Regions from separate parts of the Homo sapiens genome. Here region 1 is linked to region 2. Evidence: fine-mapped expression QTL. A gene starts in region 2. The other region holds a variant in brackets. All regions are shown on one strand. Distances are from middle to middle.

The links.
Region 1: its variant is fine-mapped to the expression of TMEM240 in whole blood (TOPMed, PIP 0.93).

The regions. Positions count from the first base shown.
Region 1 is chr1:1,567,715-1,571,968 of GRCh38, forward strand. The region is part of intron 1 of SSU72 (SSU72 homolog, RNA polymerase II CTD phosphatase); the gene reads right to left. Among named protein-coding and RNA genes, the nearest start is that of SSU72, 5.0 kb to the right of the region's middle. RefSeq lists an enhancer at 2,771-3,272. The variant CAGCT/C (reference allele first, on the strand shown) is at 2,121.
Region 2 is chr1:1,538,778-1,543,031 of GRCh38, forward strand. TMEM240 (transmembrane protein 240) reads right to left here and starts at 1,847. Exons shown (of 4, transcript NM_001114748.2): 1 at 1,513-1,847; 2 at 907-1,013. The coding sequence starts at 1,569. SSU72 (SSU72 homolog, RNA polymerase II CTD phosphatase) reads right to left here. Exons shown (of 5, transcript NM_014188.3): 5 at 2,896-3,390. The coding sequence ends at 3,289. RefSeq lists a silencer at 432-726.

The DNA of each region.
Region 1 (4,254 bases), 29 kb after region 2:
GACAACAGCCTGGCCAACATGGTGAAACCCTATCTCTACTAAAAATACAAAAATTAGTCATGGTGGCACACGCCTGTAATCCCAGCTATTCGGGAGGCTGAGGCAGGAGAATTGCGTGAACCCCGGAAGCGGAGGTTGCAGTGAGCCGAGATCGCGCCATTGCACTCCAGCCTGGGAAACAGAGCGATACTCTGTTTCAAAAAAAAAAAAAAAAATCGCACAAAGAAGCCCAGGATCAGCGTGATCACAGCAGCCAAAGGAGACAGCCTGCCTCCCAACACCAACAAGAACTCACCACCTGCTGGACGTTCCTTTAAGTTAGCCTATTTAAAAACAAAATGCAGTTTGTTTTTCCCCCAACAAAAGGTTCACGAATGGCAAAAAGGCTATTTAGCAACAGAAGCAGTATTTCTCCCAAACTGATGCAACCGACAGGGCAGCCAGCTTGCGACTCAACAGCGTTTCTTACATAAAAGCAAGGACAGCTTGGAAAACACTCCTGACACCAACAGGCTTCGCCTGAAGGGCCAACGCCTTTGTAAACTAATCTTCCAGACAAGTATTTGTCTGGTATGCCAAACAACTGTCTTTACAAGTACCAAAAATCTATCAGAGGGCTTGTAATCCCAGCACTTTGGGAGACCAAGCAGGTGGATCACTTCAGCTCAGGAGTTTGAGACCAGCCTGGCCAACATGACAAAACCCCGTCTCTACTTTAAAAAAAAAATAAAAAAATAAAAAAAGCCAGGCGTGGTGGTGCGCGCCTGTAATCCCAGTTACTCCGGAGGCTGAGGCTGGAGAATCGCTTGAACCCGGGAGGTGGAGGTCGCAGTGGGCCCCGTGATGGTGCCACTGCACTCCCGCCTGGGTGACAAAGTGAGACTCTGTCTCAAAAAAACTCCAAAAAACTATCATAAAGAAGCCATCAGGCGGGGCATGGTGGCTCACGCCTGTAATCCCAACACTTTGGGAGGCGGAGGAGGACGGATCACTTGAGGTCGGGAGTTTGAGACTAGCCTGACCAACATGGAGAAACCCCGTCTCTACTAAAAATACAAAACTAGCCAGGCGTGGTGGCTCATGCCTGTAATCCCAGCTACTTGGGAGGCCAGGAGTTCAATACCAGCCTGGGCAACACAGTAAGACCCTGTCTGTAAAAATAAATAAATAAATAAGGCCAGGCACGGTGGCTCACGCCTGTAATCCCAGCACTTTGGGAAGCCAAGGCAGGCAGATCACCTGAGGTCAGGAGGTTGAGACCAGCCTGGCCAACATGGTGAAACCCCGTCTCTACTAAAAATACAAAAAAATTAGCTGGACATGGTGGTGCATGTCTGTAGTCCCAGCTACGCAGGAGGCTGAGGCAGGAGAATCGCTTGAACTCGGGAGGCAGAGGCTGCAGTGAGCCGAGATCTTGCCACTGCACTCCAGCCTGGGCGACAGAATGAGACTCCGTCTCAAAAAATAAAATAAAAGAAAAAAACAAAAAAACAAAAACAAAAAGCCACAAAACAAACAAACAAAAAACCTAACTGGTTCCAAGGGGACACTTTAATCCTTGGAGCACCAAGCGCAGGAGGCTCTGTGGAAACGTACGGCGGAGTCTTCTGGCGCTGCCCTGAAACATGAGGACTCCCAGGACTCTGGTATTTGAAACAATTTAGTCTCTAACACCAAAGATGATCACCCCAGAGAACGCTAACATGTCGACACTTACTATCACTTGGATTTATCAGGAAAATAGAGTCCACGCTGATTTTCAATAGGGTGAAATTGTTACTGTGTCTGTTTTTAGAGACAGAGACTTGGTTTGTCGTCCAGCCAGGAGTTCAGTGGCGCAGTCACAGCTCACAGTCATAGCTCACCACAGCCTCAACCTCTTGGGCTCAAGTGATCTTGCTGCCCCGTCTCCCAAGCAGCCAGAATGACAGGCATGTGCAACCACATGTGGCTAAGTTTTAAAATGTTTTGTAATGATAGCGGGTCTCACTGTGTTGCCCAGGGCTCAAACTCCTGGGCTCAAGCAATCCTCCTCCCTCAGCCTCCCAAAGTGCTGGACTATAGGCCGAAGAGCCACCTTGCCAGGCCCAAAATTTTTAAAAGGGGCGAGGTTCACTGAT[CAGCT/C]AGCTACTGTGCCTGCTCAGTTAACTACAATTCCTTCTGACAATTTTATTTCAGCTTTCCTGTGCAGTTTTATGTAGCCCTACCCAACTGCATACAATTTTCCTGCTTTTTTCACTTACCATAAGCATTTCCTACGCTTTTCACATCATTTTTAACGCCTAAAAGACTCTCTAAATCTGACTTTCACAAGCTTTCCCAGTGTAACAGAAAAGCACTATCACACAGAGTTTCTGAGTATTAAAACTCTCTAAATAAACCCAAATCAATAGACAAAGGACATAAACAGGTAATTTTCAAAAGCAAAAATGCTCTGGGTGCGGTGCCTCACACCTGTAATCCAAATGCTTTGGGGCGCTGAGGCAGGAGGATCGTTTTAGCCCAGATATTCAAGGGTGAAGTGGTGAGCTATGATCACGCCACTGCACTCCAGCCTTACTCTGGCTTGAAAAAAAAAACAAAAAAAAAAGGGAAAATGACAACAGACATAAATTCCAACTTCAATAAGGCCAAGCTAGAAAACCGAGACATGGAAGAACACCCTGCCGACCAGAGGCCAGGAGAAGTGGAGTGAAATTTCCTAAGAGTCTGAAGGATTTCCTGCCCGTTACCCCCGAGACCCCAGTCATGACATGGAGGAAGAGCCACATGCAAGATGGACACAAGCCACAAGCTGTGCTGTGAACCTGGGCACTCAGCGCCAATGCCACCAGTCTGTGAGTCTCTGCAGGGACCCCCCCCACCCCAAAATCGGACTGCCAAATTCTCCCGTTTGACTGGGGTATTATAGAAAATTATTTGTATGAATAATGAAAATAAGCCATCTCGTGGCAAAAAAAGGAAACTAATGATGTGAATACTAACTATGGAGCAGACAACAGAACAAGAGCTTATCCCCGATGCATGCGTGAACACATGGAGACAGACGGACACCAAAATGGTACCTCTGAGAGACCACTTTCATTTTCTACAGTAAGAATTTCTGCAACAAGCAGGCTGGGCGTGGTGGCTCACGCCTGTAATCCCAGCACTTTGGGAGGCCAAGGCGGGCAGATCACGAGGTCAGGAGATCGAGACCACCCTGGCCAACACAGTCAAACCCCATCTCTACTAAAAATACAAAAAATTTGGCCGGGCGCGGTGGCTCACGCCTGTAATCCCAGCACTTTGGGAGGCCGAGGCGGGCGGATCACGAGGTCAGGAGATCGAGGCCATCTGGCCAACACGGTGAAACCCTGACTCTACTAAAAGCACCAAAAATTAGCCGGGCGTGGTAGCGGGTGCCTGTAGTCCCAGTTACTCAGGAGGCTGAGGCAGGAGAATGGCATGAACCCGGGAGGCGGAGGTTGCAGTGAGCTGAAATCGCGCCACTGCACTCCAGCCTGGGCGACAGAGTGAGACTCCATCTCAAAAAAAAAAAAAAAAAAAAAAAAAAAAAAAAAAAAAAGTTAGCTGGGAGTGGTGGCAGGCGCCTGTAGTCCCAGCTACTCGGAGGGTTTGAAGGAGAATCGCTTCAACCTGGGATGCAGAGGTTGCAGTGAGCCAAGATCGTGTCATTGCACTCCAGCCTGGGCGACAGAGGGAGACTCCGACTTCAACAAAAAAAAAAAAAAAGGAAATTGAAGGTCTATGTCTAAATTAACTTCATGATATCCATATTCATGATATCCATAATAGATGTCACCTTAAATTTACTTCCTTTTGACTCTCTTCTGAGTCTACTCTTTTATGAGTAAATTTGAATGATGGCGGCACAGGTAAAAGCACACCCAAGAATTCATTATTCAGAGGTGCTCTCCGCTCCTTTTCCAGAGACCACAGCTCTGCCAGCAACGGCCACTGGCCACTCTGAACTAAAAAGGACTTGGTCATCTTCAGTCATCGTCTCAGCGAGGTTATGACTGGCATGTCTTTAAAGTAGCCGCTAAACCTGATTTTATTAACAAGATAGCTAAATAATTTTTTTTTTTGAGACAGAGTCTCGCTCTGTCACCCAGGCTGGAGTGCAGTGGCCGGATCTCAGCTCACTGCAAGCTCTGCTTCCTGCTTCCCGGGTTCACGCCATTCTCCTGCCTCAGCCTCCTGAGCAGCTGGGACTACAGGCGCCCGTCACTATGCCGGGGTCATTTTTTT
Region 2 (4,254 bases):
ACATGCCCCACACCCACACGTATGCACAGAGACCCCCGGAGCAGGAGGCAGCAGAGATGACGAACACGGGTTCTGGGCTGGTGCCCCCTTTGTCCTTCACTAGCTGTGTGACCTTGGAAAAGCCTGTCCTCTAAATCCTCCGTCCACTTCCTCATCTGTTCAGCAGGGTTAACAGCGGCCACTGCGTGAGGGTGTCCTGAGGGGTGGAAGTGCATGCGTGCGTGCGCGGGGGCTGTGTGTACGCACATGTATATGCACAGACGCCACACACATGCGCGTCTCATGAGAAGATGTTTATTTCGTACATGGACGTACAAACATGCATGGCCAAGAGGATCCCATCGCTACACGTGCACAGAGGGGGTCACACGGTGGGTGCGGGGGGTCTGGGCGCTCCCCTCAATCTGAATGACCTTGAGGAAGCTCCACCTCCCCGCTGCCCCCCCAGCCCATCCCTCAGCTCCTCTCCAGCCCGGGGGTGGTGCCCAGTGCCCCTCAAGGCAGGCCCTTCCCGCCTTGACCTGCATTCCCCTGCCCAGGGACTCAGTGCAGGGCCCAGCCCTGTGCCAGCAGGCGCTTCCTGCCCCAGCCCTGATGAGGCTGGCTTGGGTCTCCACTGTGGACATCACACTGGGCTGCGGCTTTCCGGCCTCCAGGCTGGACCAGGAGGCCCCGTGACCCATTCCGCCATCACCCTGGAGGCCTCTAGGAACGGCGTCCTAAAGCCATGCGCCCCCAGGAGACCCCCGCCCACCTTGAGACAGCTCCTCCCCCTGCGCACCTGGCAGCCCTCAAGGGTGGAAGGCGGCTCGCGGCCTGCGTGGGGCTGGTTCCCCCGCGCCCCGAGTGGGCCCCGCCACACATGTGCGCTCACGCGTGTCGAGCCGGCGCCGGTTGTGGACTCACCGGCCACAGTTGCAGTGGCAGACGCGGTCCTCGCCCCGCAGGTGCGGGAGGATGTAGTTGTGGAATCGGTCCAGCAGCGCGTTCATGTCCATCAAGCACGCGATGGCCTGGAAGAGCTCATGACCGGTCAGCGCCAAGGAGCGGGCGGGACGAAGCGGGGCTGGGGGTGGGGAGCGCAGGCCGGGGTCGGGGCAGCGCAAGCGGGGAGCGAGAGCGCAGGCCGGGGTGAGGGGAGCGTAGGCCTTGGTAGGGGGAGCGCAGCGGGTATGGGGATCGCAGGCTGGGGAGGGGAGCGCAGGCCGGGGTGGGGGGAGCGCAGGCCCGGGAGGGGACCGCGGGCCGGGGAGGGGGAAGCGCAGGCCGGGGTGGGGGGAGCGTAGGCCGGAGAGAGGAGCGTAGGGAGTGTGGGGATCGCAGGTTGGGGAGGGGAGCGGAGGCCGGGGTGGGGGAGCGCAGGCCGGGGAGGGGAGCGCAGGCCGGGGAGGGGAGCGCAGGCCGGGGAGGGGAGCGCAGGCCGCACGGGCGGTAAACAAGGCGCGGGAGGTGGGCCAGGCGGCGCGCGCGGGCGGGGAGCAGGGGGCGCGCGCGGGAAGCCCCTCCGCTCACCATCACGACCGACGCCCCCAGAATCATGAAGATCATGGTGTTCGCGCTCATGGACATCGGGCGGGGCCGGGCCGGGCCGGAGCGCCGCCCCCCGGCCCCGGCGCCCCCCCGGCCCCGGCCCGATGCTGAGCCCCCGCCGCCTCCGCAGAGGTCAGCGCTTCCCTGGATCGTCCGCCGCCGCTCGCTGCAACCCCGGCACCGGCCGGGGGGAGGAGGCGCGGGGGGGGGGGCGCCGGGGAGGGACGCGGGGCCTTTCTGGGGTCTCTCGGCCCGGCCCGCCGCGCTCCGCTCCGCCCTCGGGTCCTCCCTGCGATGCGCTCGGCTCGGCTCGACTCGGCTCCGCTCGGCTCCGGCCCCCTCCCTGCCTCCTCCTCCCTCCTCCCCCCTCCCTCCCCGCCGCCTTCCTCCGCCTCTCGGGAGGGACCGCGCAGACCGCAGGCCGCCCCGTGCCAGCGCCGGGAGGAGACCGCCATCCCCCGGACGCCGGCCGGGACCCCTCCCCGGGAGCCTCGGCTTCGCGTCCCGCCCCAGTCTGGTCAGACCCAGCCCCGGTGGCCTGTCCGGTGACCCTGGACGCCAGTCCTCCGGTCCTGGAGGGGCGCCGAGGCCCTTCCCGCCCCACTGCTCCGCCCTACGTCCTGGACTCCCAGGTCGCCGGGTGCGGGACTGCCCCAGTCCGCTCGGCACGCACGTGCCTCCAGGGTGGGGTCCGCAAGGTCGCGACAGCCCCACGGCCGTGGGGGCCACAGGTCAGGGACGGGATGACCCCTGGAATCCTCAACGGAGGGATGTGGCACAGGAGCCGAGGGCAGGGCCGCCCCGCACAGGCTTCCCTTAGGGCGGGGACGAGGGGGTCAGCCCAGGCCCATGGGTCGGGACGCCGGCCATTCAGAGGCCCAGTGGCCACCACTCCGCTGTGGCTGTCCCTGGCTCGGGGTCCTGAGGCCAAACTCTCATCCACGACCGGTGACCATGTCTCAGGCCCGGGAGCCGACCCCCGGCCTCAGCAGGAAGTCAGCGGGAAGCTATGCCTGGGACCCAGCCTGGGTCGTGGCGCCATCCAGGCTCACTGCAGCCTCCACTCCTGGGCTCAGGCGATCCTCCCGGCTCAGCCTCCCCCGTAGCTGGCCTTGGGGGATCCCCGCCCGGGGGGGTTCCACATGGAGAGGGGACGCCGCTCCACCACAGGCAGCAGTTGTGGCAGGAGCAGGCGGCTTCCGCTTCAGGCAGCACAGGCACGGGTAGGCCCAGACCCTGTCAGCACCACCAGGTCTGAGCTACTCCTCCCAAGCAGTGGTCGGAGGTCACTGAGGGCGGCAGGGCTAGGCCTCTGCCACCTCCTCAGGGGCGAGGGTCGGGCCAGGAATTCAGGACCAGGCACAATGACAGCAGCATCTGTTTATTGACAATTCCAGGTCATTCCTAACACGCCGCAGCAGGGCTCTGTACAGTCCGGCCCGGTGGGGAGGAGGGAGGGAAGGCAGGCACACGAAGACACAGGTATGTCGGGAAGTGCACACAAACCGTTGTCTTTCCTTTTTGGTTAAAGAAGAAAAACTTTGTAATCAATATCCTGCTCATAAGTAAAAGTGGAAAAGAAGAAACTTGATTGCTTTCATCTGGCGTTTTGGCATCTCCTCTCCCATTTCATATGCACAGTTTATTTGGGTAATGCTACCGTCACCAGCAGAACACCTGTAAGTAAAAACAAATGTCAGGAAGGAAAAAGTATGAACAACAGGAAGCTCCAGAGGCGGCTCCATGCGGGCGCTGGGCTCAGTAGAAGCAGACGGTGTGCAGAAAGGTGCGGCCACTCTTCTCCTCGAACTCCTGCAGCAGCTCGTCGATCTCGTTCTCCATGTCTTCCGTGTGCTGGATCTGCAAGGACAGGACCGTGGTGAGGGCCTTGCCCACTCCTGCCTGTCTGCTCCCCCTAACACCTGGATCGCCAGGGAAACGCCAGGCCTGAGCCAGCAGAAACCAGCGCAGCAGGCAGGCCCTCACCCCACCGCTGCTGCCTCACAAGGACGGCCGGAGGCTGCAGGGGGAGAGCGTCCCGGGCAGCCCCCACCTCCCCACCGACCCTCACAGGACCTGAAGCTGGGAGGAGCTGGGAGGAGCCTGGAGCTGGATTCTGAGAGGGGCCCAGCACGGAGACCTGGCGGCCAGGGCTCAGACCCACACATGCACAGCGGGGCCGACCAACCCTCACCGCCAGCGCTTCCACACCACCAACAAGCGAGCGGGGGCAGCCTGGTCATCGGAGCATCCTGGCCTCCATCCACCAGAGCCCCTGGCAGAGGGCCGCTGCCCCAGAGTGAGCAGGCCCGGCTCCTAGGCACACCTGCCCTGGCACCGGCAGCTCGTTACTCGCCATCTCCACTGTCCCCTGGTCCCCAGCCTTGGCCAGCACCCAGTGCCTCTAAGCAAGGAGCGGCCTGTCTGTGACTCAGCTCTGGCCAACGTGACCCAAGCAGAAATCGTGCAATAACTTCTGGGACGACATTTTCTTATGACCTTTTCTCCTGCCAGGCGATCATGAAGACCGTCCCTGGCGCTTCAGCAGCCACACTGGACCGTGAGGCACGTGGGGACCAGAAGCCATGCTGGGTGGGCCAGGCGGAGCGCAGGAGCCTCTGCGGCCACACAGCAGCTTCTCCCAGCGCCCGCCCGCCTGGCTCCCGGGCTTTCCAAACACACCATCTTCTTTCTTGGTGAAGCTGTTCTGTTTTTCTGTCTTTC